Linked DNA regions of Homo sapiens: region 1 is linked to region 2. Evidence: fine-mapped expression QTL. A gene starts in region 2. The other region holds a variant in brackets. All regions are shown on one strand. Distances are from middle to middle.

What was found. PIP is the estimated chance that this variant, and not a neighbour inherited with it, causes the effect. A credible set is the group of variants that fine-mapping cannot tell apart.
Region 1: its variant is the best candidate, but not a certain one, in a credible set for the expression of FUCA2 in whole blood (INTERVAL, PIP 0.69).

What each region holds. Positions count from the first base shown.
Region 1 is chr6:143,459,972-143,464,370 of GRCh38, reverse strand. It overlaps PEX3 (peroxisomal biogenesis factor 3), which reads right to left. Exons shown (of 12, transcript NM_003630.3): 3 at 1,374-1,455. Among named protein-coding and RNA genes, the nearest start is that of PEX3, 11 kb to the right of the region's middle. The variant C/T (reference allele first, on the strand shown) is at 2,375.
Region 2 is chr6:143,509,414-143,513,812 of GRCh38, reverse strand. It overlaps FUCA2 (alpha-L-fucosidase 2), which reads left to right and starts at 2,093. Exons shown (of 7, transcript NM_032020.5): 1 at 2,093-2,402. The coding sequence starts at 2,179. It overlaps LOC105378035 (a long non-coding RNA gene), which reads right to left and starts at 2,028. Exons shown (of 4, transcript XR_007059796.1): 1 at 1,037-2,028; 2 at 1-819. RefSeq lists enhancers at 1,133-1,793, 1,815-1,994, 2,105-2,234, 1,794-2,456 and a silencer at 2,657-2,860.

The sequences.
Region 1 (4,399 bases), 49 kb after region 2:
CTATTAAATCCCCTAAAGCACATGGAACATAGGGCCTTGCAGGAAACAGATTCACCAAGAAGGAAGAATGCCACCACGATTATTTTATCTGTATTATGTTGCTTGTATAAAAATGCTATTCACTTATTTAACTTGTCTTGCCTTCTCATCATGACAAAAAGGAAATTAAAATCTACTTCTTTTCAATTCCTACCTATGTACACACAAATGGTAATTATTTATTTGATCAAAAGCAATCTGCTTATATGTTTCTTCTTCATAAAACTGTATGAACTAATTTATAAGCTAAACCTTATATCTGTAAGAAGGAAGGAAGGTCTGTCTACCTCTAAGAATGAAGAAATTTAAAATGGAAAACCCCCATCACTAGCATTCTGTTTTAATCAGATAAAAGAAATCTCAAGTACACAAATCCACTGTTATTTTGGGAAGTATTCTCTGAATATAGTAAGTGTTTTTAAAAAAATTCCCCACTTGTTATGTAGCCTGTCTGAGCACTCAATTCCTACTGCAAAATGAATAATAGTAACCGCCTCACAGGGATATTGTGTAAATTAAGTGGGAGCATATATGGAAGGTACCTAGCACCAGGGCTAGCACAGTGAGACAGTTTAGAAATAGAACTACTTTTCCCCTGGCTATTTGAAGGGTGATTAAAGGCAAGTGATTATTTTAGGAAGGCCACAATGATTAACATTTATTTAGTGAAACCATTTCCCTGCCCACCCTCCCATCATTGTCATCAAAATAAGAAGCCATTTCCTGCTGGAAGTCTTCTCAAACTAATACAGTATCATACCAAATTACAATACCCCAACACATGCTACATGCAATATACAAGGTTACATATGTGAAAGTGCTTTTGGAAACAGCAAACTGCCATGGCAATGTAAATTATTAGTATTGCATGCTCATGTTATGTTTGTATTTCATTTTGTTAGTAATTTAAGATATAAGTCCTGTATATCTTATTTATTTAAAACGTATGTTCACATGCTGTATTACACCGTAAGCTCTTTCAGAAAGAAGCACAATATTTAACGTAACTTTGTTAGCTTCACAGCATCTGGTTCAGGAACACATTTCACAAGCACTGCATAATTAAATTTGTGAACAATTTCAAAGTGCTATAAGGTCTATTTATATGAAAAACAATACATACAAATATCATTGCCTTGAATGCTTTATGCAAAAAAGTAGAGCATAGACAAAATTAAATGTAGGTTAAATGATATAGTTAGTATTTTTCTTACTGAGCCTATATAAACTTTCATTAGATAGAAAAATAACAAAGATTTTTGAAAAGTCTATCAGTTCATTCTATAAACTTTAAGTGTAGTGCTTAAACAGAAAATGCTGTAACTTGCATTTACCTGTTTTTTAGCAGAGCTGTGAGGCTCTCGGAATTCAGTTGCTGCATTAAGGCCTCTCTCAGTGTTGGAAGCATGGACAGCACTGTAATACAAACAAAAAAAATAAAAAAGGTCACAAGTGATATGACTGCCCTCACTAAGAAATGCGCATTGTTTTAGGCTATATGATAGGGCTAGCAACTAGCAAGAGTCAGAAGGGAAAGTCAGGGCTAGACGATTCAAATTATTATTATTATTATAAAACGATTATATCCTAACAAATCATTTATCTGCTTATGTAATTTAACAAAATTATATAAACATTATGATCACAGCAACACAAGTACACACAGAAGAAACAATAGAAAGAATTATTCTCAGATTTTAACAGTGGTGGTCTTTGAGCTATGGATTATGAACAATTCCTTTTTTTTCTTTTCCATACTCTCCAAATTTTTTACAAAAGTGTTTACTTCTGATTTAATGACAATGATCAAAAGCATTTTTATATTCAGCTATACTTTTTCCTTCATTTTTCATTCTAATTTTTAAAAAGTTTATTAAATACTACAAAGTAATAAACATTTATTATAACCTAGACAAAAGTGCACTGGGTTAGGAACTAAGAGTTGCTGAGTTTTAGTTTTGTCAGTGGGTATTATTTGTTACTGTTTATTGTACATGTTTACTGTTTGTAATACTACAAAGCAATAAACATTTATTATAACATAAATAAAAGTGCACTGGGTTAGAAACTAAAAGTTGCTGAGTTTTAGTTTTAGTTTTGTCAGTGGCTGTTGTTTGTTATTGTTTCTTACTCCCAGGAATAATGTGAAGATGAAATGAGACTAGCAATCTATGGGAAAAAAACTTCATGTGATTTTTAGGAGTTTATTTATGGCTCTACATGTGGAATAAGAAATGCTGGAGAATAAGAATCTGTCATGGGATTAGAGAAAAAAAGAAATGGAGGAATACACATATAAAAATGTAAAATGAGTCTCTAAACCCTAAAAAAGTAA[C/T]GATAACAAAATGAAAAAATATGAAGACCACCACATTCCTTTTCTTTTTGAGACAGAATCTCACACTGTCACCCAGGCTGGAGTGCAGTGGTGCAATCACGGCTCACTGCAGCCTTGACCTCCTGGGCTCAAGCGATCCTCCTGCCTCAGATTCCCGAGTAGTTAGGACTAGAGGCGTGGGCCTCCATGACCAGCTAATGTTTTAAATTTTTTGTACAGATGAGGTCTCACTATGTTGCTCAAGCTTGTCTTGAACTCCTGGGCTCTAGCAATCCTCCCACCTTTGCCTCCCAAAGTGCTGGGATTACAGGTGTGAGCCACCACACCTGGCTATGAACACCACATTCTAAAAGGGAAAACTTCTTGGGTAAGAAAACTACTTATATTTACCCCAAAGCACTCTTTTTTTTTTTTTCTAGTATATCAATTACATCTTATCCAAAGGAATAGAAATTTGATATTATTTGTAACACCATTATCATTGCTCATGTTATGAATTGTACAAAAAATGCAGAATGTGCAGAAAGCTAATTTGGAAAGTTTCACTGAACCTATATTTTGGCTCTTAGAGATTAAATATTTTACTTTTAATTGCCTATAGTCAGCTATTTGTTCATCTTAGGGTTGCATCATGGAAACGTGTGACCCCTATCTTTTGCTGGAGGAGCATACATAATTGACAACCCCATCTGCCACTGCTCTGGATCCATCACCATGTTTGCACTGCTCCCAGCCAATGACACTGCTTGTATGGGCACAGTAAAGCAGGCCCATTTCTGCAGGTCTCCTCTACCAGAAACTTTGGCTTGCAGACTCTTCATGGTCTCCCAATGCTTTCTTAGAACTGTGCTGTAGTCTGAGACTCTTCTTGCCTAATCTTTCTTCCTTCCTTGTCTTTTTCCCTTCACAAATGTCAGACCTGCACTGTGGCCTAAATGCTTCGCTTGCCTTCTTCTGCCTCCCTTCCCCTTTATCCTTTACAGGCATTTCTACTAGTAGATCTCTTGTACATCTAATCCCATCCTAGCATCTGCTTCCCAGGGGACCCAAACTGACACAAGGGTCCATGTCAAACTGCGATGTATTTTAAGACCCCAGCAGCTACATTTTACTTTTTTTTTTTTTTTTTTTTGAGACAGAGTTTCACTCTTGTTGCCCAGGCTGGAGTGCAATGGTGTGATGTCAGCTCACCGCAACCTCCACCTAACAGGTTCAAGTGATTCTCCTGCCTCAGCCTCCCAAGTAGTTGGGATTACAGGCATGCAACACCACGCCCGGCTAATTTTGTATTTTTAGTGGAGATGGGGTTTCTCCACGTTGGTCAGGCTGGTCTCAAATTCCTAACCTCAGGTGATCCACCAGCCTCGGCCTCCCAAAGTGCTGGGATTACAGGCGTGAGCCACCATGCCTGGCCCATTTTATTATTTTTTGAAAATTCAAATAATAAGCAGAAATGGACCATTCCCTAAAAATTCATTAAAATGTCCTAGGCAGTGGCAATATATTGAATGCTAAATGTAAATTTAAAAAGTTATCATTTACCAAGTATTTATCATACATCAAGCACTGTATAGGCATTATCTCATCACGGCCTCACAAAACATTTATGAAGTGGCTTTTATAATGTTCATTTTACTCTCAGAATTGTCATTATGTATAGTATTTATGATTACTATTCGCTTTGCAGAATGAAGGTATTTTTCTGAGTATTACTACTTCAAATATTAAAAATCATACTCCAATTGTAATTTTGGATGTGCCTCTTACCCTTCTTAATCTCAGCCTCAAGTAAAATGAGGTAAGTAAACTAATAATAAAGGCCTTTAACTCTAAAAAATTTCTAATTTTAAAATTAAATAAGGAGAATGTACCTTTATAAATTGTTTCTAAATTAATTGTTCTTGAAAGAATGTTAGAGAAATGAGTAAGCTTTAAACAATAGAAAAGAAAAACAGGCTTTGCATGGATTTGAGAACTAATTCTTCAGTTATGCCAGTTAGGACACACTGTTCTCTTCAAATATGG
Region 2 (4,399 bases):
TGAGTCAACACTGTGCCACTGCACTCCAGCCTGGGCAACAGAACCAGACTCTGTCTCAAATAAAAAAAAATTGTCATCTTTATCACAAACTGGAGCTATTGCAATTGGATTCGTTGAGCCCTTTCCTCTAGAACACCCTCACTGTAAAAAAACAAAACAAAATTGGGGACTCTTACGGTGGAGCTGTGGCCCCGGGGGGCCATCTGGCATGTCATGGAGAGGAAAAATGCCCCTACACCTGCAGTGACAGCGCCCTCTGCTGCTCCCATCTCTCTGCAGAGATGGGTTGGGATAATGCAGGCAACAGCCACTTAGTGTCAAGTTCTTCACTCAATAATTAGAACCCCAGTTCACTGGAGAGCTTCAACAAACATTTTGAGTGCTGCTTTTCTGCTGTAATTGTAGGCACTACAGAAAAGAAGGTCATTATGAATGCCCTCAAAAAGCTCACAGTCTGATGGGAAATCAGACCTGTACCACCTAGCTACTAGAGGATGCGTGAAATCCTATGTGTGCTTGGAAGGAGGTGTTATGAAGCAGATCAGGGAAAGTACAACATTCTGGGAGGGAAGGGTGGTGGCAGAAAGCTTCACAAAAGAAGCAGCATTTGAATTGGCTCATTGAAGGGTAATGATTTCATGGGGGCAGAAGCAGTTGAGGATTCTGGCTTTACTTTGAAAACACTTACGAGGTGGAGGAGAGGCTGGGCTTGGTGGCTCATGCCTGTAATTCTAGCACTTTGGGAGGCCAAGGCGGGCAGATCACCTGAGGTCAAGAGTTTGAGACCAGCTTGTCCAACATGGTGAAACCCTGTCTCTACTAAAAAAGAAAAGAAAAATACAAAAATTAGTCTGGCACAGTGGCATGTGCCTGTAGTCCCAGCTACTCTGGAGGCTGAGGCAGGAGAATCCTTGAACCCGGGAGGCAGAGGCTGCAGTGAGCCTAGATCATGTTACTGCACTCAAGCCTGGGCGAGAGAGCGAGACTCTGTCTCAAAAACAAACAAACAAACAAACAAACAAACAAACAAACAAACCAAACAAGAGGTGGAGGTGATAAGCTTCCCAAATATCCTTTTGATTAATCTTTCCAAGTTGCTGGCCTTTTTTCCCAAGCTTGCAGGTTTCTTAAACATTCATTCCACTGGTTTCACCTGTCTCAGATCATCTCCTTGTTCAATGCAGTGGTTCTCAGGAAAGTTTGGACCACCAATCAGAAACATCACAATTTTGTTTTCTTTCTTTTTTTTTTTTTTTTTGAGATGGAGTCTCACTCTGTAGCCCAGGCTGGAGTGCAGTGGCACCGTCTCTGCTCACTGTAACTGCCTCCCGGGTTCAAGCGATTCTCCTGCCTCAGCCTCCCGAGTAACTGGGACTACAGGCGTCCGCCACCACGTCCCGCTAATTTTTTGTATTTTTAGTAGGGACGGGGTTTCACCGTGTTAGTCAGGATGGTCTCGATCTTCTGACCTTGTGATCCGCCCGCCTCGGCCTCCCAAAGTGTTGGGATTACAGGAGTGAGCCACCGCGCCCGGCCCAACATCAGAACATCCTAGAAGTAGGAACTGGGTAGAAACGCAAATTCTTGGGCCCCAACCTAACTGCTGAATCTGAAGCTCTTGGAATTTCATCTGATACAAATTCAAGGTTGACAACCACGGTTCTAACATGCAGGATCTTGGGAGCTGATACAGAGGCCGAGAAGGATCTAGGTTGCTTTCCATGTTCCATCATGGCGAGACCCGGCTGAAGTTCCTGCCTTGACCTTCTCGTGCACGCTTCGGACGTGTGGAGCAGCCACCAGGGTGGGCTGGGGGCATTGTCTTCTTGGGCAGTTTCTTGGTCAGGGTCGTGTCTGCTTGAGGGCAGAGGCGCTGGCCACAAGGCCCTGACTCAGACTCATATTTTCCCCTCAAGAGGACAGAGCCTTAGCAAAGCCGTCCCAGCTGGCTTTGGGGTAATGCTGGCCTTAGTTATGCTGAGCGATGCAGCCCTCCTGAGGTCATTCGGAACGCCCGGGAGAGTGGCCACTCCCGCCCCAGAGGGGGAAGGGTGGCCGGTTTCCAAGTCCGACTTGGTCAGGTGACCGCGGCGCGGCATACTCAGCGGCAGAGACGGAAGAACAGCGCTCCCGAGGCCGCGGGAGCCTGCAGAGAGGACAGCCGGCCTGCGCCGGGACATGCGGCCCCAGGAGCTCCCCAGGCTCGCGTTCCCGTTGCTGCTGTTGCTGTTGCTGCTGCTGCCGCCGCCGCCGTGCCCTGCCCACAGCGCCACGCGCTTCGACCCCACCTGGGAGTCCCTGGACGCCCGCCAGCTGCCCGCGTGGTTTGACCAGGCCAAGTTCGGCATCTTCATCCACTGGGGAGTGTTTTCCGTGCCCAGCTTCGGTAGCGAGTGGTTCTGGTGAGTGCGCTCCCTTTTGTCTCGTCTGCCGCGCTTTTGTCCCCACCCGCAGCCTCCAGCCACCACCCAGCGGGCCTGGTTCGCCGCCTGGTGCTGCCTGCACCCTCGTCGGTTTCACCTCCCACTGCGTTACCCGCGTTTCGCACTTCCGGGTGTCGAATATGTGGTTTCCTGCCTAAGTGCTTCTGCTGGATGAACAGGGAATTTTTCTTCCGTGTGACTGTAAGAGTTTTCAGATACTCCTGACTCCTCAGCTTCTTCATAGTTGCGCATATTAAGCTGTAGTTATGACACTACAACATCGAGCTACTACAGACATTCATCAGTTTGTGCAGGGGCATCACACGAGCGGTGACTCAGGCACAATGGCCTATGGTTGCTCTGCTGCTACCTGCCAATTTACAGTCGTTCTGCCATGAAGTTATGGTTAAAACATAGTCATGAGTATGTGAAACGACTGTTCATTGAACACCATTGGCTACTTAATGTTAACATGTTACCCATGTGTGGCTCTAGGAACTTTTTAAAGAGGTTCTAGAATGGTACTCTTAACACAACCCAGTTATCATACTGCCGTATGAAAGGTGCTACACAAAAATCTGTGCGTTAGATTTTACCTTGAGATCTATGTGAAAATGTGCATGTAATTTCTTAAACTGTTGCACATGTCTTTTCTGACTAAATGCTACAAGTATTAAGTCCTTCAAAACAGAAATATTTTGTGTGCATATATAGAAACATACACATAATATATTCTTTTTTTTTTTTTTTTGAGACATAGTCTCATTCTGTCACCCAGGCTGGAGTGCAGTGGCACCATCTCGGCTCACTGCAACCTTCGCCGCCCGGGTTCAAACGATTCTCGCGCCTTAGCCTCCTGAGTAGCTGGGACTACAGGCGCACGCCACCATGCCTGGCCAATTTTTTTGTATTTTTTAGTAGAAACGGGGTTTTGCCATGTTAGCCAGGCTGGTCTTGAACTCCTGACCTCAGGTGATCCGCGGTGGCTCATACCTGTAATTCCAGGACTTTGGGACACATAATATATTCTTAAGTAAAAGAACGGAATCATTAAACAGTATTTATTTGAATCAACTATATACTACATAAATAGTATACATCCAAATTAACATACTATATTTAGTAGACACAATACAGAGTATGAACTATATATTATATTAACATTACATAGTATACATGGTACCATGCTCTACTCTAGGGGTAGAAAAATTACACCTCCATTCTGTTAGGGTCTCTGCTGGGTCCAAGAATTAAATTGACATTGTGTGACTAAATTATGTGGGGAGACTTAAATAATAAATTTTAGCAAGTTCTGTACAGTATTCTACTTCTTGTCTTTGAAGCTTAGGATGTTGCCTTTCCTTCTAGTACAGAGTGCCTTTCATACTGGAATTTCATCTTCTCTCCTAAGAAACAGCACAAAGGGCAAAGTGCTCTTCATGCACCTGCTATTTTTCGAGTTTCTTTACCTTTAAAAATGTGCCAAAATAGCATATTTTAACCCTTTCATGACAAAGAAATTGACTACCTGCAACCAGTAACCTTTCTTATTGGTAGGTCAATTGATGTAAAAAATAAAACTGGATAAGCTATGGAGAATTATTCATATTTTAAATAATTCACCTTCTAAAACAGAGACTCTTTATTCTTATGCCAAAACATAGCTACTTCAAAAAGATGTTACAAATCTTTATTTGCATGTTTTGGGCTGTAAGGAATCTTGAGCTTGTTTTGGAAATATTTTAGATTAGTGTGGTACATAATTAACAACTTTCTTCCCCCTAAATTGTATCTTATATTATCATTTTGTTCAACCATGAAGATTAGGTAAAGATATATTGGTGCCAAAGAGGATTTGACATTTTTGACTGAGACTAGTACTATGCCAAAATAAAACAGCTAGTTTTGAGTCATTTTATTCTTTGCTATGAATAACTTCATTTTCTACAGATAAACCCATGGTTATTTTGACCTAG